Linked DNA regions of Homo sapiens. The protein of the gene in region 3 purifies or fractionates together with the protein of the main gene of each other region. This does not show direct contact. Each region holds a gene or a part of one and is shown on either strand. Other genes may lie near its edges.

Region 1 (7,394 bases), on a different chromosome or scaffold from region 3:
AGACACTATCTCAAAAAAAAGAAAGAAAAAAAAATTGTTCTGAAGGTCCCTCTCCAACATAATGCCTATTTCAAATGGAGCTAAACAAAATTGTATTGCCCATATCCTGGCATTCCAGAACACAGAACAGGCTAGATGCTGCAGCCAGTTCATTTTTCTTGGGGATGTTTCTCTTTCCCTATTAAACTCATTGTTTTTAAAAGAAAGAAGGGTGTCTTTTATTCAAGATATCTAGTCTTCAAGAACTTTGTTTTTCCATCATTAAATAAGCAGAAAAAGGAAGCAATAAAGACACCTAAAAGTACACCTAGAAATCCAGGGGACAGTTTTTTTGAACTTTTGAATTCCAGAAAGTAAAGAGCTGAGGCGGGAGGGTCGCTTGAGCCACAAGTTCGAGACCAGGCTGACAACATAGTAAGACACCTATCTCTACAAAAAAACTGATAAAAATTAGCCAGATGAGGTGGCACGTGCCTGTAGTCCCAGCTATTCAGGAGGCTGAGGCAGGAGGATTGCTTGAGCCTGAGAGGTGGAGGCTGTAGTGAGCCATGGTAGCACCACTGCCCTTCAGCCTGGGCGACAGAGCAAGATCCTGTATCAAAAAAAAAAAAAAAAAAAAAAAGGGAAGATGAGGGATCAGAAGGGCGGAAAGACAAGGCTAATCTCATGATTCTTGACCACATCCTAGATGCAAATCAGTTCATCTTGATCAAATGTCCCCTGCGCAGATGACGGGGGTGGGGCTAGGGGAAATGTATTTGCCTGCTGCCTCAGTGATAGTCACTTTCCTTTTCCAACAGGCAATGGAGGGGGCACCTGGGTGTGCTGGAGGCCCAAGAGGCTCACTGCTTCCAAGAGAACTGTCCCTAAACACGTACAGAGCCTGATGAACATCTTACGTCATGACCCACAAGTGAATAAGAGAATGGATTGTATGAAGTAGTTCTTCCTTGAATTTTTGCTTTAGGTAAGTTGGTCACACAATCAAGGGTGTGTGTCCCAAGTTACTATGGGACACTTGTTTTTAAAGCAGAAGAAATTCCTTCAGATTGTTATATAAAATATAGTTTTCAAGTGCTCACTTAAGGTACTTGGCAGCATATAAAAAATTCATACTTGCAGCTTTCTGGCAGTCATATCCACGTTATTGTTCATGGCAGGGATCAGAAGTCCTGCCCAATTAGTCTGTTTCTTAGTGTGCTGAAGCTCTCTATCCTCCGGAAGCTTCCCTCTGTCTTGTTTCTTATGCAGGGCTCTCTGGTTCCTGAGTTTGTTGCATCCCTTCCTCCAGCTGGAGTAGAGAAAACAAAGAGGGTCTCTTGGGATCTTGGCCTCAAATCAAGAAATAACCTTGTGGCTGGGCACAGTGGCTAATGCCTGTAATCCCAAGACTTTAGGAGGCGAAGGCAGGAGGATTGCTTGAAACCAGGAGTTCAAGATCAACCTGGGCAACAAAGTTAGACCCCCCCGCCCATCTCTACAAAAAATAAAAAATTAGCTGGGCATGGTGGTGTGTGCCTGTACTCCTAGCTGCTTAGAAGACTGAAGTAGGAGGATCACTTGAGCCCAGGAGTTGGAGGCTATAGTGAGCTGTGATGGTATACAAAAAATCAGCCTGTTATGGTGGTGTGCGCCTGTAGTCCCAGCTATTCAGGAGACTGAGGCAGGAGGATTGCTTGAGCCCAGGGATATCGAGGCTGCAGTGCACCATGATTGCACCACTGTACTGCAGCCTAGATGAGAGAGCAAGACTCCATCTCAAGAGAAAAAAAAAAAACAAAAAAGTAAAAGAATGGAATAATAGGCCGGGCACAGTGGCTCATGCCTGAAATCCCAGCACTTTAAAAAGCCAAGACAGGAGGATGGCTTGAGATTAAGTGTTCAAGACCAGCCTGGGAAACGTGGTGAGATCCCATCACTACCAAAAATTCAAAAAATTAGCTGAGTGTAATGGCACACACCTGTGGTCTCAGCTACTCAGGAGGCTAAGGTAGGAGGATTGCTTGAGCCTGGGAGGTCGAGGCTGCAGTGAGCCATGATCATGCCACTGGACTCCAGCATGGGTGACAGAGTGAGACCCTTTCCCCCAAATAAATAAATAAAAATACAAAAGAGGGAAGTAACCTTCTGAAAGTCAAGAATGTTCTGTCTTCCAGGGGCAGACCCACAATAACATACATGGGCTTATGTCTAGAGAAAGACATGCAATAAACATTAGCTCACTTAGTTGACTGTCCATCAGGAACGCTAACACCCTTCATTGCATGGCAATGCCTGGAAGCTCTCCAAACACAAGCCCCGTGTCAGTTTGGGCTCACTCATGAATCCTCAGTATTTTTGCACAATGCCTAGCTTGTAACAGATGCTCAGAATGAAATTTATTTACCAATAAATGTTATTGATAGCTGATTAAATATAGTATTGTGGTCATCTCAATGACAAGTTGGCCCTTATACTCTTAGACAACTTCCTATTATAACTTTGATTTGACGGAAAAAACAGATTGACTTGATCAGTTCAATGCACTTTCAAGTTTGAGATTTACCTGTACCAGACACACATTGGAGTTGTTCTCTGCTAATTGTAGACACACACAACTTGTGTGTTTCCCCCATTTCCCCCCCTCTTCCTCTTCTTCATTTCTATACTCTGTTTCTACTCTATGAGTCTTTACGGCCAAGATGGTGTTAGGACAGGCAGGATAGGGAAGTCACACAGAAAGATACAGATTGGGTTACGAAAGACAGCTTTTTATCCCTTTCTGTTATTTCCCCCCCACGGTGGCTCTTTTGAAGGCTGGGATGACTTCAGTCCACTATTTGCATGATCTTCCGCTTAAGAGTCCAGGGACAGATGATGTCCTTACATGGTATAATGTTCTGCTTGGCCCTTGTAGTTTCTACTTAGGGACTTCTCTTTCTTTCATCTGCAAATCAAAAGGTCCAACAACACCATCAAAGAATATTAGAAACAAAATAGACCAATGGCTTCATTTAGTAAAGTAGGAACATAGCAAACGTTTTTATTTTTTATTTTTTGCGACAGATTTTCACTCTTTTTGCCCAGGCTGGAGTGCAGTGGTGAGATCCCGGCTCACTGCAACCTCCATCTCTCTGGTTCAAGCGATTCTCCTGCCTCAGCCTCCCAAGTAGCTGGGATTACAGGCATGTGCCACCGTGCCCGGCAAATTTTTTTTTTTTTTTTGTACTTTTAGTAGAGACGGGGTTTCTCCATGTTGGTCAGGCTGGTCTTGAACTCCCGACGTCAGGTGATCCACCCGCCTCGACCTCCCAAAGTGCTGGGATTACAGGCGTGAGCCACCCCGCCTGGCCCATAGCAAAGCTTTATTCACTTAACGAGTCATGGCCAACAGCGTCTGGTTAGCTCACAGAGGCCACAGTTTTATCTGTGGAGTCTGGTAACCACGCCACTCACGACCCTGTACATTGATTAGATGCAGCAGGTCATCTCAAACACACAGCTCTCTCCAACACCCCTTAGAATACAACACTTGGGTGGTGATTTTACTTAACATTCTGGTACTTCATCCCAAAAAGACATCGGTAGAGATTAGTGTAACTCAACAACAGGCAGAAAACATACAAGAAAGTTTAAGACGGATGTCTAGCAGTGCCTGAACTGTTAAGAAGCAAACGTGAGTAAATGCCTTAGTTTCAATAGAAAAAGAAAGTTCACAGTGGGACCTCAGAAGCAGAGGCTGTGAGATCACCTTTCAAGAATTGGAGGAGAATTGCAGTAAGTGATAGAGCCGGACGCTGAGCTGCAGCAGCCTCTGGGAATTGGCGGGGCTGTGGCTTGTCCTGTCCTGCCGCCCCCCGCGTGGCCTCGGAAACTGTCAGATGGTGCCTAAGGCAGAGTTGGGCAAAGAAAGAACCAGCGTTCGTTTCCTCCTGGACTCTCTAGGTCCATGGAGCTGGTGGGGGAACGGCCCTGTCTTGCCCGAGGAGGAAATTCGAGTCGAGCCCCCACTCCTCTCCCCGCGGGACTGATAAACATGTCCCTCATTCGCCCCGGGAGGCTGGCACCCAGGCACGACGCGAGGACGGCCAGACTCGCCGACGGCGGCCGCGTCCCGGGGGGCCGGGAGCGAGCCTGTCGGAAGGTGGGAGGCGGAGTCGCTCGGCATCTGGGAAGAGACCAAAGGAATGAGTCATTGGAAATGCTGTAACGTAGACCCTTATCCCAAACCCTTTCGCCCCTCCACCCCGAGCCCCCTGCCGAGAAGCGAAGGGACTGGAGACGGGGAGACTTGGTGGGGGGAGAGTCACGTTTCGGAGAGGGAAGTGAAATAAAGAGGGCGGCACCCGGGGGGACCTGTGCGTCATTGAGGGACCGGGGAGAAGCGCAGGGCGCACGGGGCTGCAGAAGGAGAAGTAGGAACGAGAAGCCGGAGGGGGCGGCCGCGGAGCACTGGTTGGAGCGCCGCGAAGCGCCCGAGCCTCTTGCCTTCGCGGGCGGCGCCCTGGCCGCCGGCAGCCTTGTGGCCGGTGCCCCGATCCGCCGCGCTCCGGACCCGGGCAGGCGGGGCGCGCCCGCTGCGCGCGGGATGTGGCAGCCCAGACGGCCCTGGCCCCGCGTGCCCTGGCGCTGGGCGCTGGCGCTGCTGGCCCTGGTTGGCGCGGGGCTGTGCCACGCCGGCCCGCAGCCCGGGTATCCCGCGCGGCCCAGCGCCAGGAACAAGTAAGTGCGCGCCCCTTGGCTGGCCCCAAACCGCCTACCCCTCCCCGGCCCCCAGTTGAGCCCCAGAGCTGCCCTGCCAAAGACGACGAGCGGCAGCCGGGGGCCTCCCTTGGACTTCCCCGGGCGGCTCCCTCTGCGGGGGACCGCGCGCTCCGCAGCCGGCGCCTCAGGCAGAGCTGACTCCGGGGGCGTGGGCGCAGAGAGCGTCCCGCAGACCCGGGCGATCCGAAAACGACTCCCAGGAATTCCATGAGCCCCTGGGACCATGGGTGCTTTTCTTTCCCGTCTTGGTCGGGTCCAGGCGCGCGCTCTCCAGAGGCGCACCCGGGCACCCTCCGGCGTCTGCTCGGTGAAGCTCCCGCCTCCGCAGAGGGCGACGGGCCCCCCCGACCCTCGCTCGGTCTGGTGCCGCAGTCCCCTCTCCCCTGGCCTCATTGTTCTCCGGGTTTACCCCGTGCCCCTCTCCCTCTCTCTCCTGCACCCCAGGAACTGGTGCGCCTACATCGTGAACAAGAATGTGAGCTGCTCCGTGCTGGAGGGAAGTGAGAGTTTTATTCAGGCTCAGTACAACTGTGCCTGGAACCAGATGCCCTGTCCGTCGGCGCTGGTGTAAGTCCTGGAGCCGGGGAGCGGGCGGGGCGCGCCCGGGCCGGGGCGGTGGGGGTGGGGTGGGGTTGCTGCGCTGGGCTCCAGTCCCTCCGGTAAATCCCTTCCAGATCCGGTGAAAAGCCCGCAGCGGAAAAGCGCTCCGAGCGCTCGCGGGGCACCGGCCACGCTGGGCTATTTAGGGAGTGGGTGCTGCCCGAGTGAGTGGGGAGGATGCGCGCGCCTCGGGAGTGTGGGGTCGCGGGGGCGTAGGAGAGGATGAACAAAGCTCCCACTCCCACTTCTGTTTTCTCCCTTTCAATGTTTGTTTGTAACATAAGGCAGCTGAATCTAATTGGATCCATATTGTGTGTTCTGGGGCACACAGAAGATTCCAAAATGTATACTGCTAAAGACTATTCCGTATAGGATTCGCTGAGAGGTTTGGCTAAGTAGTGTTCTAAAACGAGTGAGTTCTGTCCGTATGTCCCCATAAAACGGAATCTTCCAGTTTTGTAGATGTCTAAGCTAAAACCTCAGGAACACTTTGCTTAAAAGTGTGGCTCCCCAGCATCCCTCCCCGCAACTTAGATTTGGAGATTCTCTAGAGATTGTGGGAGAGAATGGCCGTTAAAGACAGGGGGAAGAATTAATCATCTTTTTGCTTATAAAGATTTCCCCATCTTAAAAAAAAAAAAAAACAGGAAGCAATGCAATAAAGTACAAATGCCGTTAAATACATGACACTCATTCAATTGTCATCAGGCAAGTCTTTGGGGGTTTTGTATCAGTCTGATACCGGAAGATGGGCCAGTGTGAATAAATGGCTGTTGAGGAACACATGTGATGGCTGAAATTAATTGTTTTCCACTAAGAATAAGTTGTTTGTCTTAGAGCACAGTTGTCATTACAGCAGAGAATAGTCAGTAGGCGGATCTGTCTTTGGCAAAACCAAGGGACAGACTGGAACTTGTACTCCAGGAAACCTTATTCCAGAGAACAGTAGATGAGCCTGTAGTCTTATGGGAAGTGGTCGCTGGGTCCACCCCACGTGGGCTTCTGGAGGAGCTGCCAACAGGGTTCAGCTAATTCCTGCTCGGCAAAAACAAAGTAAAACAAACAGAAACTTAGACGAGGTCCCCATTTCCTAATATACAGTGGAAAACGCTGAAATTGAATGCCCAGCTAGGCTATCTCTTTGAGTTGGATACATTGTCAGAGAGATAAGGTACTGTCATCCAACCTTAATCTCTTAGTAAGATTGAGACCTCATCGTCTATGGCCAGCAGTCAACGACATCAGAACCAAGCAAGGTTTTTACACTGTGGGAGTGATACAAACTAAGTATTCAACTCAGTTTGAATGCATTTGTTTAAAATTAGAATTGAGTTATTAGTCAGGAATATTTTATTCATCTTATACAAGAACTGCATGGTGTGGCTTGCTATAACCTTAAAACTTACTGGTGACAATTCGGAGATAAATGAATTTTTCATTTTGGGAGGTAATGCATTTTTGTTTAAAAGATGGCTTGTTTTTATTTTCTCAAATTATTTTAGCTGCTTGGAAAACCAAAGGATGATTTAATTGTTCTATTTGACCAAAACTCAGTGAAACTTGGCTGTCAGTGGGGAGTGAATCGCCTCCAGATTGGCAGGTCAATGCAAGGCAGTGGGAGTGCATTTTTGCCACCCAGTGAGTAGGACAACAGAATTATTATAAAAAATGACAGATGTTTCTGTTGTTTTATTAAACAAAGCCAAAATAAGTGACCTGGATGTTTTATTTCAATAATAACCATATAAACAATACAAGTGCATTTTTACATTTTAAGTACTGCACTGTAAGTGTGAAGTTTAAGAAACAAAGACTGAGTTGATGAACCTGAAAATCTTGACATTAGCTTCAGCAGTAAATTCAGTCTTGACTTTTTTCAGTTTCTTTAGGGATGGAACAGAATGGTTTATCTTATTTTTCAACTGAGGAATGCTTCCTAAGATTTCTTTTTTGTTTTTTGTTTTTTGTTTGTTTTGTTTTGAGACAGAGTCTTACCATGTCACCCAAGGTGGGGTGCAGTGGCGTGATCTTGGCTCACTGCAACAACTGCC
Region 2 (6,418 bases), on a different chromosome or scaffold from region 3:
GTGTGCACAGGTGTGTGGATGGCAGTACGGCCTCATCAAGTTCCCATCCAGAGCTCCCCAGTGACCAGGGTCCAGGCTCAGGGCTGCAGGTGGGAGCTGGCAGGGGAGATGATGCTGTGTGGGGTGGCCCTGCCCTCTCTCCCCGGGACCCTCTGTCTCCCACAGTCTCAGGCAGCTGGTCCACCAGTTCAGTGGTGCAGGAGCCTGGAGGGGCTCAGCCCTGGGGCAGCTGCTCTGGGGGCTCAGGGGGGTCAGGCCGATTTCTACACTTCCCCAGCCTCAAAACAAGGGGAGGCAGGCAGGGGAGCAGGTACGAGGAAGCACAGGTCACTGAGGTCGGACGTGTGTGTCCACCTCTCCGCACGGGCACTGGTATGGGACAGCAGCCAAGAGGGCTCGCCCAGCTGGAACAGCTGGGGAAACCCAAGCCCAGAGAGGGGCCCAACCCAGGACTGCCGGGGGCGACGCAGGGGCTCTGGTGGCCAGAACAGAGAGACAGGACACAGGCGTGCCACTGGGCATTTATTCACACGGAGCAGCGTGGTCCTCAGTGCCCCGCTGGCCAGCAGGCACACAGGGCACGGCGCTCTGCCTGCAGCAGTAGGGTCTCCGTCTGCAAAGCAACAAGAGGGGTGAGGGTGCAGCCCAGCTGCCCACTGGCATTCCCCTGGGCCTCCACCCACCCAAGGCAGCCCTATCTCCACCGGCTCCTGAGACAGACAAGGTCAGGCCCTGGCTCTAACCCCCACACCCAGAGCCTCCCACTCATCTCTTTCCTCTGCAGTGGCTCCCACTGGTGGGGCCTGCCTGGGGTCTGCTGGTGCCCACGCCATGCCAGCGTGCCCACCTGCCTTCTTCCAGCTCCCACACCACCCGCAGGGGTCCACTGTCCCCCACTCCCTGCCACCCTCATGCCTAAGGATAGGTGGGGGCTGCTCCTCCCAAGAGCTCAGTTCCAGGCTCTGTGAGTGGGGAGAGGGCTCCAGGTCTTAGTCGGAGCCCTCTGGAGTGTTCCCAAGAAGGACACTAGGGCTGGTGGGGGGTGGGACCAGGCAGGGTCTTCCCTGCTTTCTCCTTCCTAGAATTCTCCCTTTCCAGGAAGAAGCTTGAGCCCCGGCACAAACAAAAACTCCTTGGCTGCACCCCATGGCGTGGGGGCTCCCTGTTCATCCAGGCTTGGAGGGGCCTTAACCAACCTGTGCATCCACCCAGGATCCAGACCACCCTGCCCAGCCTGACCCCCCATTCCTGACACTTTCGCCACATCCTCCGGCCTCAGTTTCTCCTCTGCCCTGGGGCCTTGCCGCCCACCTAGGGGATCCTGGATTGGGCTGACAGTCCTTCCCCAGGGTCCAGATCTGTCACAGCCCTCAGGAGTGGCGGTCATAGGACAAAGTGCCCAGTGAGAGCCTTCTGGGGGAGGGGCTAGAAATAGAGTATGCTGGAGAGAGGGGCGTCTCATAGGTGAGACAGGTGCCCAGAATGCCCCTTGGATGACTGGAGCCAGAGGAAGGGGGCAAGGTGCGGCATCTTAAATCGGGGTGAAGGATGAGGGACACTCCACTCCCGCAGGGGGCCTCTTCCTCATCCTCCCTGCCCTCCCCACCCCCTGGGAAGCCCGGGAGGACCGTCGCGCCGCGGGCGCTCACCCGCGCGTCCAGGCTGCAGGCTGTCTTCCGCAGGTCCTGCAGGGCGCGCTGCATGAACTCGAAGGCGTGGCAGTCCACGCATGGGCGGCCTGCGGGGGGCGCGGGTCAGGGTGGAGGGGGCGCAGGGGGGGTCACCCGCAAGGCCCCCACGCACTCTGGGCCCGTCCACCCAGTGCCAAAGAGCGCACGTCCCCACTCCCCAAGCCACCATCTCCCGCGAAGGGGAGGACCCGCTCCCGGGAACAAAGGCGAGGCGCGGTCCTCCCCGCAGAGCCCCGGCCCCGCACGCCCCTGTCGCCAGCCCCGCCCCGCTCCCCGGAACCCGGCCCCCGGCACCTACTCTGCGCGGGGACGGCACTCCCGGCGGGCTCGGCGCGGGCCCGGGCGCCCAGCAGCGCCAGACTCAGCAGCAGCAGCAGCAGCGGCGGCGGCGGCGGTGACATCGGGGACCGGCACGCGGGCGGGGGGGCCATGGCCAGCAGAGGGAGCGGGGCCGCCCTGAAGCCAGCGAGGGGTCAGCGGCGCCCGCCCCGCCCGCCCCGGGCCGGTGAGCCCCCGTCCCCTCCCGCGGGCCCCACGACCCTTGTCCAAGCCCCAGGCCTGGGAGCCCTGGACCCACCCACCCCGGGCCCGGGAGCCCCCTCCCCACCTCCGGTTCCCCGACTCCAGTCCGCCGGTCTCCGGGCCCAGCGAGCCTCTAGTCCGCGCCCCGTATCTAGAAAACGCCCATTCGGACGCCCGCACCACCGCCCTTACCGCGGTTCAGGGACCCCGGGACCAGCAGCGCGGGGACACCGGCAGACGTTCCGCGTCCGGCGCGCAACGCGCATGCGCTCCGACCCGACCCCGCCCGGGTTCCCCATCCGACGTCGTCGTCATGGAAACCCGAGACTGCGCTGGCCGCGGGTTTAGAGGAACCTAGGACGCTCCAGGAATCGGGTGTGCCTGGCCCTGGCCGGGGGCTGCCCCCGGGAGCAGCGTCCAGGCCCATGGCGGATGCAGTCTAGAGGACTGCCTGGAGGAGGCGGCGCCGGGGCGAGACCTCCAGAGCGCAAGGCCGGCGGGAGAAAAGCTGAGGAAGTGGGAAATCTGTGGCTGGAGCTCAGCAGGTCAGGAGCGATCCTGAGGGAGCTGCTCGATGCTCGCGAGGCGCGGGGAGCTGCGCATGCAAACGCTTGGCCTCCGACCGCGGGCGAGTGGGGTCCAGTGTGGGGTCGCACCGCCCGGAGAGAGCTGGTCTGGGGGATCGGCTCGGGGGATCCGCCCTCGCCCGGCTTTTCCCTGGCCCAGCCTCTCCCCGATCCTCGGGCGTCAGGGTGGGCACCAGCCTGCTCGGTCCCTCCCGGCTACCCACCCCCAACCCAGGGTCCTCCTCTCCGCCTCTCGGTGTCCTCGGAGACCGGAGAACCGCTTGCGCGGAGCCCCGACCACAGGTCCTCGGCCTCTCTGTGCCGATTTCAGTCCCGTGAACTCAGGGCTGTTGGCCTTAAAGAGCGCCGTGCAGCCAGTGGCCCCCGGGGGCGCCCGGCAAGTGCGAATCTGGGCCCCGGACGCCCTGGGAGGGATGGTCCCAGCCGTCGGAGCCAGGCCCCCACGCCGACACCGACACAGGCGGTGGCCTCCTCAGAAGGCGCCCCAGGCGCACGTGGGTGCTGGCGCCCCCGCTCCCCCCCCACCCCACCCAGCAGCCCGCGCTGTGGCCGGGAGCTCAGGGACTAACCACACCTCCCGCCAGACCCTCTTCTTGGTGGGCGGAGCCGCACCCCTACCTGGAGGCCGCCCCGCTCGCCGTGCAGGACCCGGAGCCTCGGGCGCCCCCCTCCCCAGCCTAGCCGACCTCTACCCCCAACCCCCGGGGTTCTGGCCGGTGGTCTTCCCGGCACAAGCTGGGACTGCGGACGCACCTGCTTCTCGCGTGGTCAGAGCCGCCCCTGCCCCGGCCGGACGCGGGTGTCCTGACCCTAAGAGTGGGTGGGAGGGTGGGTTGGGGAAGCGTGCCCGTGACTGCCGCTGCCTCCTCCGGGTTGGGCCGACGCCGGGCTTCGGGGACCCGGTCGCACCTCGGGGGTGTGCTGCATCCTCAGCGCGCTGAAACGCACGCGGGGCCCGAGGGGCCGGGTGGGGGCTGCGGGCCGCTGTCCCAGGCGCCTGGGGAGGCAGCGGCCCTCCCGAGTGTCGGGCTAGTGCGCACTTCCGCGCTCTTCTCCACTCGGAGCCAAGAGCCCGGGAGCAGGCCGTCGCGGTCCCCCAGTGGGGCGGGAGCCGTAGAGGGGTAGCCCCGCGCTGTTGCCGGGGCCGCGGAGCCCTGGGGGGGACGTGCCTCCGGGGACGCGCCGGGCCGCAGGCGTCCTTCTCCCCTTCGGTCCCACGCTGCGCCCGCTCGCGACCTGCTCCTATCACCCCTGCCCCTAGCGCCCACGGACAGTCGCGCCCACGGACAATCTAATCCCAGCACTTTGGGAGGCCAAGGCCGGTGGATCACCTGGGGTCAGGAGTTCAAGACCAGCCTGGCCAACATGGCGAAACCCCGTGTCTACTAAAAATACAAAAATTAGCCGGGTATGGTGGCACGCGCCTGTAATCCCAGCTACTGGGGAGGCTGAGGCAGGAGAATCATTTGAACCCAGGAGGCAGAGGTTGCAGTGAGCTGAGATCACACCACTGCACTCCAGCCTGGGCCACAGAGTGAGACTCCATCTCAAAAAATATATATATATATGTATATTTCTTACCAAAAATGCATCTTCATTCCCATGACTGTCTTCATCTCTGTCTCTCTCTCTCTGTCATACTTGCTGGTTCCTTTGGATGTTGTTTCTGTTTCCTTCCTAAATCCATATTTGAAATAACCTTAAAATTATTCCTTTTTCTCAATAAATAACACATATTTGTGCCTTTCTTATAATTTTTCTCATAAAACACATCTTTTTGGTGCACTTTATATACAGAATTATATATATTAATTAGAAGTTTAACTCTTTTTTTGAAACAGAGTCTTACTCTGTTACCCAGTCTGGAGTGCAGTGGCATGATCTAGGCTCACTGCGACCTCCACCTCCCGGGTTCAAGTGATTCTCCTGTCTCAGCCTCCCCAGTAGCTGGGACTACAGGTGCGTGCCACCACACCCGGCTAATTTTTGTATTTTTTTCTTTGGTAGAGACAGGGTTTGCCATGTTGGGCAGGCTGGTCTCGAACTCCTGACCCCAAGTGATCCACCTGCCTCTGCCTCCCAAAGTGCTGGGAATCCAGGCGTGAGCCACTGCACCTGGCCTAAGTTTAACTCTTAGTAATTTTAATTTCTAGCAAGCAATTTTGAACTATCACATGTCAATATTTTATAGGTGAGAACCATTTTGTAATTTTTAGAGACAGGTCTCTCTGTAATTTTTTTTTGTTTTTTGTTTTTTTTTGAGACGCAATCTTGCTCTGTCGCCCAGGCTAGAGTACAGTGGTGCAATCTTGGCTCACTGCAACCTCTGCCTCCTGGGTTCAAGCGATTCTCCTGCCTCAGCCTCCCAAGTAGCTGGGATTACAGGTGCCTGCCCCCACACCCAGCTGATTTTTGTATTTTTAGTAGACATGGGGTGTCACCATGTTGGCCAGGCTGGTCTTGAACTCCTGACCTTAAGCGATCCACCCGCCTTGGCCTCCCGAAGTACTGGGACTACAGGCATGAGCCACCGAGTTCAGCCATAATGTATTCTTTTGATAGTGACTCTATTTCGTGAATCCAACAAGAGGACAAGCACAACGCTCACCATCATTTAAAAAAAATGAATTTGCACAAATCTCACTTGTGTTATTCACACATTTCGCTTATTTAATGCTTTCTTTGATTTTGATACCAAAACTGTATGTTGATATAAACTCCCAGGTGATGAAAAGATCGTTGACAGAGCTGAGGATTTTTCATTGAAAACTAACCCTAATCCAGGCAAACATTTTAACCCAGTTCTAGGTACTGATGTCAAAAGGGGTTGTGATATAGCAAGACACTAAATAACAAAGCTTCAAAATATTGAAAGCGGCATTGACAGAAGTACAGAAGAAATAATTAATCTCAATATTATAGTGTAATATTTTAACGTGCTTTTTCTGATAATTATTCAAACAGGAAATGAGTTGGTAAGGATATAGATTTGAATGCTTCACAAAACATTATCTAATTGAGTACATATATTGAACACTGTATCCTCAGAATACATTCTGTTTAAGTATATGCAGAATGTTTAATTTTAAAAAAATTAGGCCAGGCACAGTGGCTTGTGCTTATAAGAGACGGGAGGATCACTTGAGGCCAGGAGTTTAAAACCAGCTTGGACAACATAGCAAGACCCTAACTCTACAAAAGATTTGAAGATTTTAAAAAGTATCTGAATGTGGTGGTGCATGCCTGTAATCCCATCTAGTTGGGAGGCTGAGGCAGGAGGATCCCTTTAGCCTAGGAGTTCGAGGCTGCAGTGAGTCATGGTCGTGCCACTGCACTCCAGCCTGGGCAACAGAGTGAGATCCTGTCTCCAGAAAAAAAATTTTAATTTTATATATATATATATATATATATATATATATATATATATATATATATACACACTGATCACTTAATAAAGGCTTTAAACATGTCAAATAATTTAAACATGTCAAATAATCATACAGATCATTTTTTTAACTACAAATCAATGTAATTATTACTTATAATAACAAAAATATAAGTGAAAACTTCCATATGTTTGGAAATTTAAATGCACAAATTTAATAACACATAGGTCAA
Region 3 (7,024 bases):
CAATTTTTTCTTTGTCTTTTTTTATATTTTATTATTATTTTTTAACTGACAAAAGGTATGCATATTTACGGTCTACAGCATGATATTTTGAAATACGTAGGCACTGTGGTATGGCTAAGAACTAACTAACATATGCATTACCTCACATACTTATATTTAAAAGGGACAACCAAAGTAAATATACTCTACCATGTTTCTGATGTGAAGACATTGGAAACATCTAGAAATTCCACTGATTAGTGTTAGAACTCTGCTCTAGCAATCCTCATTCTCTTCTTCTCCACCCCACTGCTTAACCCACAAAAGTCAACTTCTAGAAGGTTCAAAATATTTAACTTGGCTCCATGTCCTCCGGGAAGCATCCCAGGCCTTCCCCCGGTATTCTCCCCCTCCCTCCCAGGCCATTCTTCTGTACTCCAACACATGCCTAATGTTAGTGCACTTACAGTTCCAGACACTGTAAACCACGTCTCTACCTTGAAAGTGAGCTCCTCTAAAGCAGGGAAGGATCCCTCATCATTATTCCAGGCATCAGTACTCAGTAATCACCTAATGCATATTTCTATTAAAAACTAGTGAGAAATGAAAGCCCTCCAGCCCAGAAGTTCTCAACCTTTTAATTACCAGAGGTGCCTTGTATCATTTCTTTTTAAGTTTGTCTAGAATAGTGTTTTAATAATTTATTTGTATTCCCACTTTATTAAACTCTGAACACATCAAACTACCAATCAGAGCTGTGAGAAAATTAGTGCTACCTAACTAAATTGCTATGAATTCCATGCAAAGGGAAAAAAAAAAAAAAAACTGATGTTTTAGTTAGTGTGTGTATCAACATTTTAATAAAATTGAGTTATTTTCTGAAATAATTTTAAAAACCTAAAACTATCAAACAAATTAGCACAAAGAAAAATGACCGTCCCACACACGTCTAGTGAGAGGGCAATTTAACTGTATGTATCCAGGGCCTTGAAAATGTTCATCTTTGGCCCAGTAATTCTGGCCTGAAGAATTCTATTTTCAGGAAATATAAAATACAAAAATATACAAAAATGTGTTTTCTATACAAAACATGTTATTTAAGCGTGCTTTATAATAGTGAAAAGTGGGAAACAATCTAGATATCAATGACTTGGGACTGGTTAAAAAAAAGTTATGCAACAGCCAAACAATGGGAAACAATGAAGCTCATGAAAATGACATTTATGCAGAAGTTTTTAAAACATAATAATATATTTAAGTGACAATGGCAAGTTAACAGACTAGAATAAAAAATTGCCCACACAATACAACCTCAACTGCACACAAAATGTAATTTTTCTTAAAAAAAGGACACATCCACTAAAATTTCAAGAGTGTTTCTAAGTGGAGCTATTATGGGTGAACTTTCCATCTTGATCTTTATGATTCTCTGTGTTTTCAAAATGTTAAGCCAAAAGCACAGTGCTTTTATAATTTTAAAAAAACGTCAAAAAGTTAAGACACAAACCTGCCGAAGGACTCATTACTTCCATGTCCAAACAACAACTTTCAAGAGATGGCATTCAGAGATCTATGCAGGAACTCTAAATAATAGACTAAAACATCTCACATTTTTTAATACATCCCTAATAGCCTTTTTTTTTTTTTCTTTTTTTTTTTTGAGACAGACTCACTCTGTTGCCCAGGCTGGAGTGCAGTGGCGCGATCTCAGCTCACTGCAACCTCTGCCTCCCGGGTTCAAGCAATTCTCCTGCCTCAGCCTCCAGAATAGCTGGAATTACAGGTGCCCACCACCACACCCAGCTAATTTTTGTATTTTTAGTAGAGACGGGATTTCGCCATGTTGGCCAGGCTGGTCTCAAACTCCTGACCTCAGGTGATCCGACGGCCTCGGCCTCCCAAAGTGCTGGGATTAGAAGCGTGAGCCACTGTGCTTGGCCCCTAATAGTTTTTCAACTTCTTCTGCTGAAGAATGTCAAGAATAAAAACAAATAATCTGTACCTACTAACAACTCTCTCCATCATGGGATCAAACTATAATTCAATATCCAGACACTTGAGCTGCCTATATTGCCAGACATGACTTCCAAAAGTTCTTGAAACAGAAATAAGAAAGTTCTTCTCTTTAGAGCAACTCCAAGTACATCCCCCAGAGCAATGGGTGCAGTGTGCCAACCATAAAAAAAAAAAAAAGGAAGATTACAAAGTTCCTTTTTGAAAAGTTCAACAATTATTTGGGCTGCTGCAACCCACTTTCACTGCTATTCCCACTTTCAGTGTCATAATAGGTGACATGCTGTTCCTGGCAGAATGATAGACCACTGTGCTTTGAAGGCTACTGACATTGGTGTGTTTCTTTTGGTAAATAAATGACCTTGAAAATTATCCATAGCACACATTTCTGACCAGAACTCTCCTTTTCTGTAGAGGACCATATGGACTGATAAAAAGGCTATGGGCTTTGTAGTCAACAGAACTAGTTTTCTGTCTCACCTCTGCCACTCACCAGCCTCATGATTTTCGTAAGCTAATATCCCTAAGCCTCAGCTTCCTGTAAAATAGGGATAATAATAATACCTCCCTAAAGAGTTGCTGTGAGAATTCACTAAGCTAGTAGATTTAAAGCATCCAGCACAGTATATGGAACATACCACATGTTCTAAACGACAGCTTCAGTATTTTAACTGAATTTCATCCGGAAGTTCCTAACAAAGGCCTCTTAATAAGAGGAGAATCTAGCCAAAACCTCAGAAAGCCAAAATACAGAATTTGGCCTTTAACTTGATCATTTAGAATGAGGGGACTAAAGCCTATGGAGCTTTGGAGTTGTAAATTCACAGATCAGCCTCACCCACTTGTTGGACAAGTGACTTAATCCCTGTGAACACACGTTCCTTCCACATAGAATGAAAGAAGAATAGTAATTACAGGTGATGTGAGGATTTAAAAAAAAAAATAGCCCATGTTAAGTGTCTGCCACATTGCAAGTGATTAAAATATTGTGGCTCTTCTTACCATATATTTAATGTTACATCAACTGCCAATGTTTCATTTCATCAATGTCAATCAGTTGAGTCCAGAAAAACAGGGAAAATAAATAAATAAATCTCAAAACACAGACAGCCAGTCTGACCCTCAGTCAGTACTTACGTCGGCAGACCTTACAGCACTGGCCAGCAATGTGCACTGGGAGGGAGTCTGGGGAGCAATTGAGAGGGGGACAGGACATCCTTCGGCATTCCACGGCACCACTCTGAGGAAGGAAGGACATGGAACATAATCTCAGAAGTATCCTTTGATAGCTCCTGTTGTGGAGATCATTGAAATCTCATCCCAGAAACCTCATCAGGGAAACAGAAGCAGTATTCGAATTCCCAGTCCACTCCAGGACCACAGATGAAGTGTTTTCTCCGGCCCGAATGACCTGTACCACCTCAATTACTTTTCTGAAATACATCACTGGTTTCATCCTACCTGCCCATGTGTGCTAACTAGATTATGCAGAAAACAAAAAGTCTATTTTTATAAGAACATAAATAACACATTTGCAGACTCTGTCAATCATTTCTGAGGCTCTAACAATCTGTTTTGTATTTTCCTAGACAAACAATGGCATTCTTCAGATATTTATCAAGTAATTTCAACTGGACAGGGTTTCCATACTAATTTTTGGAGGGGGATGTTGTAATTCACTGAAACAGATGAAGGGATATACAAATAATGGATATCCTCACACTGACAGTGAGTCAGGGAGGAAATGCCTTGCAATTATTTGAAACAGGTGATGGATACACTTTGCAAAAGACAATAAAAACATGTAGAAAATAATTAAACTCCCCTTTTAAAGTTATTCTGGTTGTGAATAAGGATAACCATTAGGTTGTTTGAAAATCAAAGGAGTCCCTTCTTTCCACTATATCCCAACCTTCAAACTCCAAACATTGCCTATTAAATCAAATTAGGGTGTGTTGGCAAGGGAAAGCAGATTTTAATTTCCAAGTATTCATATAAGACATGACACTCTTCCAGCATTGCTTCACAATTGCTCGTATGGCTAGTGGGTGCTAGGTAAAAACCTAACAATTCTCAGAGTTAATATTATTTATTAAAGAACCAGGTTACACTCTAATTATCAAACCTCTCCCCTTAAAACTGTTTTTACTGTATTTATTTACAAAGAGGCTTACTTTGCAAGTGCAGTTCCTGCAATGGTCACCATCTACCCAAGAGTCTTGATCTCGATAGAGCAGTCCACTCACTTGACAAGTCTTCTCACAATGACAGTTTTCCAATTGACTAAGTCTTGTCTCTGCATAATTTAGCTGCAAACAAGAGTTACTGAATGTAATTTCTGTAATTCAATTGCATCATCCTAACAAAGCTAATAGCAACAAGAAAAAAAATCCTTCTGAGAAGAGAAAAAAATGCTCAGAGCAGTTCACTGATTCTTAGCATTATCTGTTTTTTGTTTTTTTTATTTTTTTTACACAAGGTGGAATCACTCTAAATTGAAGAAATATTGGCTGTCATGGTCTAATGAATACCAAATGAGACATTAAACTGTAACTCAGGAACCTCATGGGTGTTCATAAATGTGTGTGCTTTCCATTCAAGCCCACACAAAAACACTCATAATGAATGTGTTCTCAAGGACTCATTATGATGTTTACAGGCGATCTAATCAGGAACTCCGAGGCACTTACATTTATCTCCCACTATCCTCTCTATGTTCTTCACACACTAACTAGAATGTCGTGGTTTACAAACTAGGAAGTCACTGCCTTCTGTCTGATGAAAAATTCTGGAGAGCTGGGGTCAGAAAAAAAGAAAAGTCGTAAGCGGATCCCCCAAACAGAATGCCCCAGGAATTCACTTTTGTGCTTAGAAGAAGGACAGGAAAAGTAACCAAAACCCCAGGTAAGATCAGAATTTTGTAAAATAACCTTTTTTATTTTTCTAGGCCACCCAGTCATTGCCAATAATCACAGAGTCTTAGACTCTCCTGCTGGAAAGGGATTATAAAGCTTGAATATCCTCACAAGAAACCTCAAGTGATTATCTAGCCTTTGTACATCTCCAGTGGAGGAACATGTATTATCTTCCAAGGAAAGCCACTTTTCTCAGTTAGCTCTCTTGTTTGAAACATTTTTCATGGTTTTGGCTGTGAAATCTTTCTTTTTTTCCTGCCATACCTAGGTTTTCATTGTAATCCATCCTGAGCAAACCTAATCTTCAAGCATTTGAGGTTATCCTGTCGTCTTGACCACACTTGGCACCACCAGGTTCCCTTAACAGCTCCTCATGATATGATTCCAAGCCTCTCTTCTGATCACTTTTCATACAGCCTACTCCAGTTTACCTTCAAAAATATGGTGCAAAAAAACCCTAAATACAGCACTTTGATATGATCTGTCTACTGTCACATCCACACGAAAGAGTAACTCAACCTAGTAGTGATATTACTCTTCCTTTCCTTTCCCTTACATAGAGACCACCATGATTGAAAAACAAGTATCGTTTCCTAGAAAATTATCTGAGTTTCTCTTTTCCTTCTCAATCATGTTTATCCTTTCATGTCTTAAGTACTTTCCCCATACAGGAGATCAATTCAACCTTTGATCTAACTAAGATTATTTTGAGCCACTATTTTAGACATAATAGATAAACCTAGGGAATGACTTCCACCATCTTTCTACATTAACTATGGTTCCATTTCATACACCTTCCTCTGACTTACTCATACCAGAACTACTCTCTGGAAATGGAATCCACATGTAATTCTAACCTTTGTTTTTGTCATTTATTTCATCCTCTTCCTCCAAGCTTTTGGAATTTCTCAAGAAAATTTACCCCTTGTCTGCCTTTTGTGGGTGGTAGCAAAGGGTAGAAAAAACAAAAAATAGGATCTTAGACCAACCACCATGCACCATGAGCAGCCCCTAAAGAACTAAGAGTTGACGCTGCCTGAAATATTAGCTTCCTATCACTCCTTCTAATATGCATGATCTTCTAAAAATCCATGTTTCATTTAAAACTCCAGCCTAGGTCAAGTGCAGTGACTCACACCTATAATCCCAGCACTTTGGGAGGCCAAGACGAGCAGATGACCCAAGGTCAGGAGTTTGAGACCAACCCAGCCAACATGGCGAAACCCTGTCTCCACTACAAATACAAAAAAAAAAAAAAAAAAAGCCGGGTGTGGTAGCGGGTACCACCAGCTACTCTGGAGGCTGAGACATGAGAATCTCTTGAACCTGGGAGGCAGAGGTTGCAGCAGGCCAAGATCATGCCAGTGCACTCCAGCCTGGGCAACAGAGCGATACTCCATCTCAATAAATAAATAAATTAATACAACAAAACTCCAGCCTAATCATAGAGTTTATAGAATCTATGATAATTAAGTTATTTGGCAATGCTTTAGGAAACGGATAAAATACACTGCTGAGTTTGGTGATACTCTTGGACACTGAGGGATGATGGCATATGGTTTGGCCACTTGCAGATACCAAAATCTGAAAATCTTCAAGTCCTTTATATAAAATAGTATAGTTTGCATATAACGTATGCACATCCTCCTATACACTTTAAGTCATCTCTAGATAACTTATAATAAGTAATACAATGTCTAAACATCAATTCATTCACATGGATTCAATGCAGTACTCGGTACATGGAAAATTCAAGTTTTACTCTCTGTAACTTTTTGGAATTTTTTTCTGAGTATTGTTGGTCCATGGTTGGTTGAATCCACAGATGTGGAACCTCAATAGAAAGAAAGTAACAACTTATCACTTATCTTTACTTCATTTCCATAGCCCCAGTAGTTCCTACACAAGGCAGTAACAGATATATGACCTTGGATTGAACAACAGAGTTGAACCAGATCTGCATTCCTCCTAAAAGGGTCTCAGAATTGTGTACCTTTGTGAGAGGACCCATACGTGCCTTACTCTGAAAATCTGGAACAATTCTGGTGTCTATATCACTCCAAGAAGGGAACTTCTTAAGGACTAAATGGCCCAAAAGGCAACTCTATATCTATCTG
Region 4 (7,017 bases), on a different chromosome or scaffold from region 3:
GGCCAGGTTCCCCGCCCCCGGGGGCTCCGCGGGTCCCGCCCTCGACCCAGCCCGGGCGGCGACCGGACCCCGACCCCGGCGCGCCCCGCTCGCTCCGCACTCACCGCCGGATCCGGGGCGCGCACGCGCCGCCGCCACTGCCGCCCGAGCCCGCGCCGTGGGGGCCCCGAGCCCCGCCCCGCCCCGCCCCCGGCCCCGCCCCACCTGGCGGCCCCGCCCCGCCCCCATTGCGCAGACGGGGAAACTGAGGCCCCGCGGCGGACGAGCTGCCCCCGGGCGGGCAGTGACTCTGCTGGAACCCGGGGCTGACGCAAACGCGCCTCTGAGCCGCGGCCCGCCAGCACCCCCTCCGGGAATCCTGGGGCCCGAGTCCCCGCGGCAGGGCGCTCGCTGCGCGGTCGCTGGGGACGCACGACCAAGCCCGGCCGCCAGGAGCCAGGAGAGGCCGCCCAGGGCGCCCACACTGACGGGGCTGCGGGCCCTTTGCTAGCTTTCAAGCCCCCCAGGCTGAAAACCACCCCGGGACGCCCATCTCAGCCGCTGGGGGGCCGCGCGGTAGGCGCCCGGCGCAGGTTAGCACTGAGCTGGGTCCTGCAGCCTCGCAGGCAGTGGGCATCATGACCGTCCCCACCGCAGGCCCAGAGACCCAGATCTCCTCTGAGACCACATGGCAGAGCCCAGGCCTGCCTCCTAGCCTTAGCGTGTTAGGTTGGGGGCCCCTGCGCCGGCCCCCACCTGGCCCTCTCTCAGGCATCAGGCACCCTCACCGGGGTCACTGGGTCACTGCTGAGTTCAGCACAGTCAGGGCCATCGCAGAACACTCCTCCCAGCGAATCCACAGGCCCCCAGAGAGTCTCCTCACACCAGAGGTCCCTGGGCTGGTCACCTCTCTTCTCCAGGCCTCCATTTCCAAATTTATAAGATGGGGCTAAACAGCCCTGGGATCTAGTGACGGTGAGGTCGTGGCCACACAACAATTGTTACAGCTGTTACTGCGGGCGCGGCACGTGGGGCTCGGGCCAGCCCAATTCAGCAGCCCCTCAGACCCCAGCCGGAGCCAGCGCCCTGTGTCATAACCCGCGTGGGCGCCGGTGTGAGAAGTGTTCCCTCGGAGCAAGGGGTTTGCTGGGACTCACCTGGCGGAGGAGAATCAGTCATCCCCCGGACAGGGGCAGGAGCTGCTCCTCCGGGTGGTGGGGGCCACCTGTGCCTCCCCGGTCCTGGGGGCTGCTGGTTGGAGAGGAGTTGTGGGTTAGTGCCTATGCACAGTCCTGGTCACCCTGATGTCTGGGGGCTGGGAAGGGGCCCGGGACCAGCTTTCGGTGCTGCTGTGGGACCTCCGCCTGCACTAGGCCTACAGGCCCCTGTCCTGCACCTACCCCGACCCCATCCTGTCCTGAGCTGATTGTCCTCTCGGATCCGCAGCCCCTGGCCTCAGTAAAATGGGGTTATTGCCTCCAGCCCTGGACTCCCTGGCATGGGGATGGGAGGCTGCTGTGAGTGGAGCTGGAGGTCTCTCCATGTAACCCAGGGTGCTGGGCAAGGGGCCTGCAGATGGGTCCGAGAGGGCCACCAGCTTGGTCCTACCTTGGTGCATGGGAGCTGGAGGAAGGGAGGGGCCCAGGTCCCTGGAGAGGAGTCCCCAAAATGAGGCCGCCCCACCCTGCAATCCAGTGGCCACTGCTCTGGACCAGGGGCCCTGGAAGCCCCTGGCACGTGGTCCAAGGGACGACCAGAGCAGCTGCTGTCAGGGGGCGTTCCTCATCTGACTGGGGAGTCCTAGGCCTCCTGGCGCCCTGAGCCCACGCAGGGCAGCTCTTACCTAGCCCCCAGCAGTGAAGTGTTCAGAGTGGGGCCTAGGGGGCCTCTGGGTGGGAGAGCCACCGCCACCCTCCCTGTCCCCTGCCCCTGGCCTCATCTCTGGATCTGCGGTCACTTAACCCTTTGACCTGCCTCCCCACCTCTCCTGCCTGAGTCTGGAAGAGGCGATGGAGCAGAAAGGGCAGCTCCAGGGCTGCCCCGACTCAGCCCTCGCTGCCCCCATCCTGGCTAGGCACCATTTGGAAAGTGGGGGTTCTCAGACAGGCTTCTTGGTGTGGACGTATGAGACAAAAAGTGGGGCCTTCTAGGACCCACTGTGGTTTTGGGGGCTTTGGGATGGGGCTTCAGCCACTCTGCATGAGGCTGGGGAGAGGGAGAACAAGGGCGTCTCCAGGGTCCAAGGGGGGCCCACAGAGTCACCCATTTGCCCACCGCACCCAGCAAGTCATCCCTAAGCCCGAGCCCCACGTCCCGCACCCTGGATTCACACTGCTCATCCTGGCTACAGATGTGGCTTTGGGGTTCCTCTCCCTCGGGGCCAGTTCCCCTCCCCGGGCCCCCGTTGGGTTGCTCATCCACTGCTAGGGAGAAGATGAGGAGACCTCAGCCCTCGGGACACCGCAGGGCGTAGCGCGAAGCCCCTCACAGCGGGCCCAGCCAAGCTGAACTTTGCTGCCAACCACAGGGGCTGCTCTGCGGAGGGAGAGAAAGGCCAGAGGGTGGGGTTCAGGGGAAGGGCGACTGGGGGTGAAGTGTTGGAGTCAGCAGACTGGATTGGGATCTACGCTGGGCCACCCACTAGCAGGCGTTTGGCCAAGGGGCCTCAGTGGCCTCCTCTGTGCAGAAGGGGAGGAGACTGGGACCCCTCCCCTGTGACCTCGCTGGGGAGCAGATTGCGGAGCAGCCAGCAGGCGCCACGGTCAGCGGGAGTGAGGGGAATGGGGGGCCCGCCCTGTCCGCTCCCTGCCCCTCCGAGGCCACCCCTGCCATACCTGATGCTGCTGGAGCCCAGGCGTGGCCATGGTGGCCGCTGCTGTGTCCTGGGACTGGAGATGGACCCTAGCCCTTGCTGGGGCCTCAGGCCCACTGGCCGCCTGGAGGCACCTCCTGAGGCCCACCTGCCTGGCCTGTCCACAGGAGCCTCCCTTGCAGCCGTGCAGGGCCAGCTTGGTGCAGGGAGGCTCCCCCCGGGCGAGGAAGGGCGGCTTTTTATGCTCCGTCCTGGGTAATCGGGATTGGGATGGGCCCTTCCCAGCCGGACTTCCTGTGTGTGTTCTCCGCTGATAACGGGGACGTGTCGTCGGACAAACAGGAGGCTGAGGGGGGTGGGGGCCACCGTGTGAGGGGGCCTGGACAAACTGCCCAGGGGTGGGGAAGCCGTCCCCTGGGCCATCAGAGTCTAGCCCCAAAACAGCCAGAAACCAGGGCTGGACCCTGCTGGAGACCCTGGGGAGAGTGTGGGGTGGAGGACGCAAGCCCAGGGCCCTCCCAGGACCGTGGGTTCACAGGCCATGCTCACGTGTGGCTGGACAGAAGGGAGCTGCTGCATCTTTGGGCCAAGGATGCTGGGCCCTCCCCCAGGACACCCCCAGATGTGTGTGACACAGCACGGGAGCTTGGAGGGGCCCCAGGCCAAGGCAGGGACCAGCCACACAGGAGCCTTGACCAGTGAGGGATGGCGAGTGGCGAGGCCCGGCAGGAAGGGACTGGGGTGGCAAGACAGGCTGAGCGGTCCGAGAACAGCCTGTTCCGTGGGTCCCTGAGGCCCATGGTGAGGGGGTGACGGGAGGGGACAAGCATGGAGTCCAAGCTCTCTCCCCTAAAAGAGCTGCCAGTGAGGCTGTGAGCCCCTGCCCTGGAGATGGGCAAGCAGGCCCAATGCCCTCAGCCCCACTTCACAGGGGTGCTCTGGGCTGGCAGCAGGCTGCGGCCGGGGGTGTGGGGAGGGATGCGGGACACTGTGGGTGATCACAGGGGGTGCTCTGTCAGATTCCCGGCGTCCCAGCCTCCAGGTCTGACCCTCATCTTCCCTGTTCACACGGCAGTGGGAGCCTCAGGCCGAGCGAGCCACTGTGGCAAAGGTGGGCTGGGTGGGAGGGGACACGGTGCCGAAGGGAGCTGGGTGGCTTTGGAGGGCACGCCTGGAACCCCAGGAGAGCAGGGCCTCTCCCAACCCCGCTGTCCGTGGGGTGTGAGCCCTGCTTTGGGGTCAGCCCCTGTCGGCCTGATGCCTGGGACACCCCCATTTCCCTGGCCCTGGGCGGTCAGTGTGCCCCCACCTCTCCAGCCCCACTCAGCTGGGCAACTTGAGCCAAGGGAGGCTGGGGCAGCTGGGGAAATTCCCCACGGGACTTTGGAGGGCAGGTGGAAACCTCACCCACACGCGATGCGCCTCCCCCTCAAGCAGGAACCAGCTCCCCTCTACCCACGGCCAGGGGAAGGGTCTGCTCTGGGCGCCAGGCTGTGGTCAGGGCTCAGGGCCTCAGCCAGGCAGGACCTCACTCTTCTCCGGGCCTGTTTCTGCACCTGCTTCATGGTCACTGAGCTGGTTTAAGGGGGCGCTCCTGGCACCCAGGCACCGCTGGTCTGAGCGGGAGGGGCCTCTTTCCAGAGGTGGCCCCTGCCCTGAGGTTGGAGCAGATAGGCAGAACCCCATTTCCCCACCTCCTCCACACTAGGCCACCCTGGGATCTGGCCCTTACCCTACTGGCTGCACCCTCAGCCGCCCTGTGCCTCCCTCGGCCCCCTGGCTCTCCCACCCAGGGGCTCATCCTGCCCTGGCCAGCCTGTCCCTCCAGCTGTCAGGAGGGGGTTGCAGTGAAGAACAAGTTGGCAGCAGGCCGGGCCCAGTCCCCCAGGCTGTCACCCAGGAGTCCAGTGCCAGGAGGACAGCCTGGGGAGGACCCAGACTCTGCCCTCGCCCCTGGCTGTAAGCACAGCAGTCAGTTCACCGGGAAGGCCCCCAGCGGGCCAAGCCTTAGCAACTCGTGCACTCGGCTACTTAGCTACTCCACCGTATAGGGGCCCAGTAGGCTTGTGCCCCCATCCCAGGAGGTGCCCTCTTGCCCTCTGCCTGCATCCCTGCGGCCTGCCCCCTCCTCCCCCACCTGCATGCCCCTGGATCTGCCCTGGCCTCCTGGTGGAAGGACCCACAAGCATGGGGTGGGCTAGATCCAGCCCTTTCTGTGTACAGAGGGGGAAACTGAGGCCCAGAGGGAGAAGTGACCGGCCCAGGTGAGCCTGGAGGCCGGACAGGGCTGGGATGCTCGGCACAGGAGGCTGCCTCACCCTTCCTTCCTCTTCTTGGGGAGCCCCATGTCCCCCACCCCAGCTTGTCCTATGTCCCAACCTGGAGCAGCCCCTGTCATCAGACCTATCCGGCCAGGGGACAGCTCGGGGCAGGAATAGCTAAGTAGCCGAGTGCACGAGTTGCTAAGGCTTGGCCCGCTGGGGGCCTTCCCGGTGAACTGACTGCTGTGCTTACAGGCAAGGGGCGAGGGCAGAGTCTGCGTCCTCCCCAGGCTGTCCTCCTGGCACTGGACTCCTGGGTGACAGCCTGGGGGGCTGGGCACCGCCTGCTGCCAACTTGTTCTTCACTGCAACCCCCTCCTGATAAGCTCTGCCCTGCCCCCAGCCCCTCCCCAGGCCAAGACTAGACCCTCCCCAAGGGAAGGAGGCCTGGGCTCAGGCCCAGAGTGCCAGCTTTGCCCTATCCCATAGCCTGGAGCCACCACAGGAGGGGCACTCCACTCTCTTGGGCTCCTGGAGCCTCAGAGGCAGGTACAGGAGGTGGGCTGCGGCCTTGCCCTAATGTCGGGGGCCCAGCGGGGACAGGAGGGGCGGGGGGTTGGCAGGGGACAGACATGGGTTCTTGGACGCCAGAGGGTACTGGGGGTCCAGGGGGTTGGGGCTGCCCCCGGGTTCTGGTATGGGTGGAGCACACTCTGTGCCCAAGGCCCAGGGGCTCAGCAAGGGGCAGGCGGGCCCCTCCCTCACCCTCCGGTCCTTGGAGGTGCCCCCTTCCCTGCCCTGGCCGCTCTGGTGGTGTGTGTTTGGGATCATGGCACAGACCTTCAGCAGGGAATCATTTTGGGAGTCAGCAGTGCCTCCTGCCCAGGCTCCAGCCCCACAGAAGCCAGGCCGGGCCCCACGCCTGGCCTCCTCCCCTCACCTCAGGGGCCCAGCACAGAGGGGGAGACCTGGTGGGAGAGTGTGGCCACCCCAAGGCCTGCGCCTGTCCTCATCTGGGCACTGGAAGGTCTGGAGCCCAGGGCTTCACCCTGCCTGGGGTGGTGTCAGAGGTGGAGGCCCGGCAGGGGCAGGAAGCTGGAGCTCTGGTCCCAGCTTTGTGCCCCACACAGGCCTCAGTTTCCCCATTGTCTCTCTTGTCAGCAGGGCCATGTTGTCCAGTGGCCTTCCAGCCACCTGGGAATGTTCTGAGGTTAGTTATAAGGGGAAGGGCTGCCTTACCTTCCCAGAGCGTGCTGGCTGGGCAGAGAGGCGTGGAGGGGCCTGGCAGAGCCCCCCGGGCCCTCCCGGGCCTCCCGGACCCCTCACCAGGGTGCTTTTGGCCTCTGAAGCCCCAGGAGAGGGCAGACTAAGCCCCTGGCAGAGGCCAGCCTGGGCATCTCAGGTGGCGCGAGACAGAGGGGCACCAGGCGCGGCCGCGGGAGCCGGGCTGCAGGAGGTGCAGGAGGAGGGAGTGAAGCAGAGTGCGGGAGGGATGGGGCTTCCTGTTTACCCCGAGCGCCCCCCGGCCTCGGACGGGCTGGCTCTGTCAGCCACGGATGTGGTGGAACCTTCCCATCAGAGGACGTCCCGGACCCGACGGGGGCTGGAGGGAGCTGCCAGGCAGGGGTGCCTGCGGGCAGAGGAGCCGTCTGCTCCCGAGCGAGGGTTTGGGCAGGGAGAAGTGAGGGTCCCCAGCCTTTCCTCTCACCTCTCCCTGCCTGCTCCGGCCCCTGACCCACGTCCCAGAGCGACACCCTCTGAGTTGAGGGGCTTCCATTTTCAGAGGAGGCAGCTGGCTCACAGGTGGAAGCCGCTTGTTCAAGGGTGGAAAACGGAGGCCCAGGACTGGAGTCCGGGCGCCTGAGCCTCGGGGGTCGCCCGGGGGACCCCTCGCCCTTCCCCTGGCCGCTCCCGTCTCCCTTCCTGGGGCTGCCCACTGCTCCAGCTGATGGCGTGGAGGAGTCC

Evidence for each region.
Region 1: the proteins of NELL1 (region 3) and EMILIN2 purify together in Homo sapiens (affinity purification with mass spectrometry; 2 studies listed by BioGRID and IntAct, with this or other methods). This does not show direct contact.
Region 2: the proteins of NELL1 (region 3) and NICOL1 purify together in Homo sapiens (affinity purification with mass spectrometry; 2 studies listed by BioGRID and IntAct, with this or other methods). This does not show direct contact.
Region 4: the proteins of NELL1 (region 3) and EGFL7 purify together in Homo sapiens (affinity purification with mass spectrometry; 2 studies listed by BioGRID and IntAct, with this or other methods). This does not show direct contact.

The regions. Positions count from the first base shown.
Region 1 is NC_000018.10:2,842,622-2,850,015, forward strand, and holds the start of EMILIN2 (EMILIN-2 precursor), read left to right. Parts: upstream 1-4,384; 5' UTR 4,385-4,567; coding exon 4,568-4,701; intron 4,702-5,187; coding exon 5,188-5,310; intron 5,311-7,394. UniProt on the Homo sapiens protein: May be responsible for anchoring smooth muscle cells to elastic fibers, and may be involved not only in the formation of the elastic fiber, but also in the processes that regulate vessel assembly. Has cell adhesive capacity.
Region 2 is NC_000004.12:2,038,056-2,044,473, reverse strand, and holds NICOL1 (NELL2-interacting cell ontogeny regulator 1 precursor), read right to left. Parts: upstream 2,480-6,418; 5' UTR 2,406-2,479; exon of another isoform or gene 2,299-2,405; intron 2,148-2,298; coding exon of another isoform or gene 2,123-2,147; coding exon 1,990-2,122; intron 1,739-1,989; coding exon 1,650-1,738; intron 614-1,649; coding exon 548-613; 3' UTR 510-547; downstream 1-509. UniProt on the Homo sapiens protein: mRNA-binding protein which interacts with a range of target mRNAs including SERPINE1, ACTA2, CCN2 and COL4A1 and may promote extracellular matrix production.
Region 3 is NC_000011.10:20,924,585-20,931,608, reverse strand, and holds part of NELL1 (protein kinase C-binding protein NELL1 isoform 1 precursor), read right to left. Parts: intron 4,897-7,024; exon of another isoform or gene 4,813-4,896; intron 4,302-4,812; coding exon 4,167-4,301; intron 3,233-4,166; coding exon 3,130-3,232; intron 1-3,129. UniProt on the Homo sapiens protein: Plays a role in the control of cell growth and differentiation. Promotes osteoblast cell differentiation and terminal mineralization.
Region 4 is NC_000009.12:136,658,905-136,665,921, reverse strand, and holds the start of EGFL7 (epidermal growth factor-like protein 7 precursor), read right to left. Parts: upstream 3,007-7,017; 5' UTR 2,844-3,006; coding exon of another isoform or gene 2,814-2,843; intron 2,515-2,813; 5' UTR 2,299-2,514; intron 1,234-2,298; exon of another isoform or gene 1,231-1,233; coding exon of another isoform or gene 1,137-1,230; intron 155-1,136; exon of another isoform or gene 105-154; intron 1-104. UniProt on the Homo sapiens protein: Regulates vascular tubulogenesis in vivo. Inhibits platelet-derived growth factor (PDGF)-BB-induced smooth muscle cell migration and promotes endothelial cell adhesion to the extracellular matrix and angiogenesis.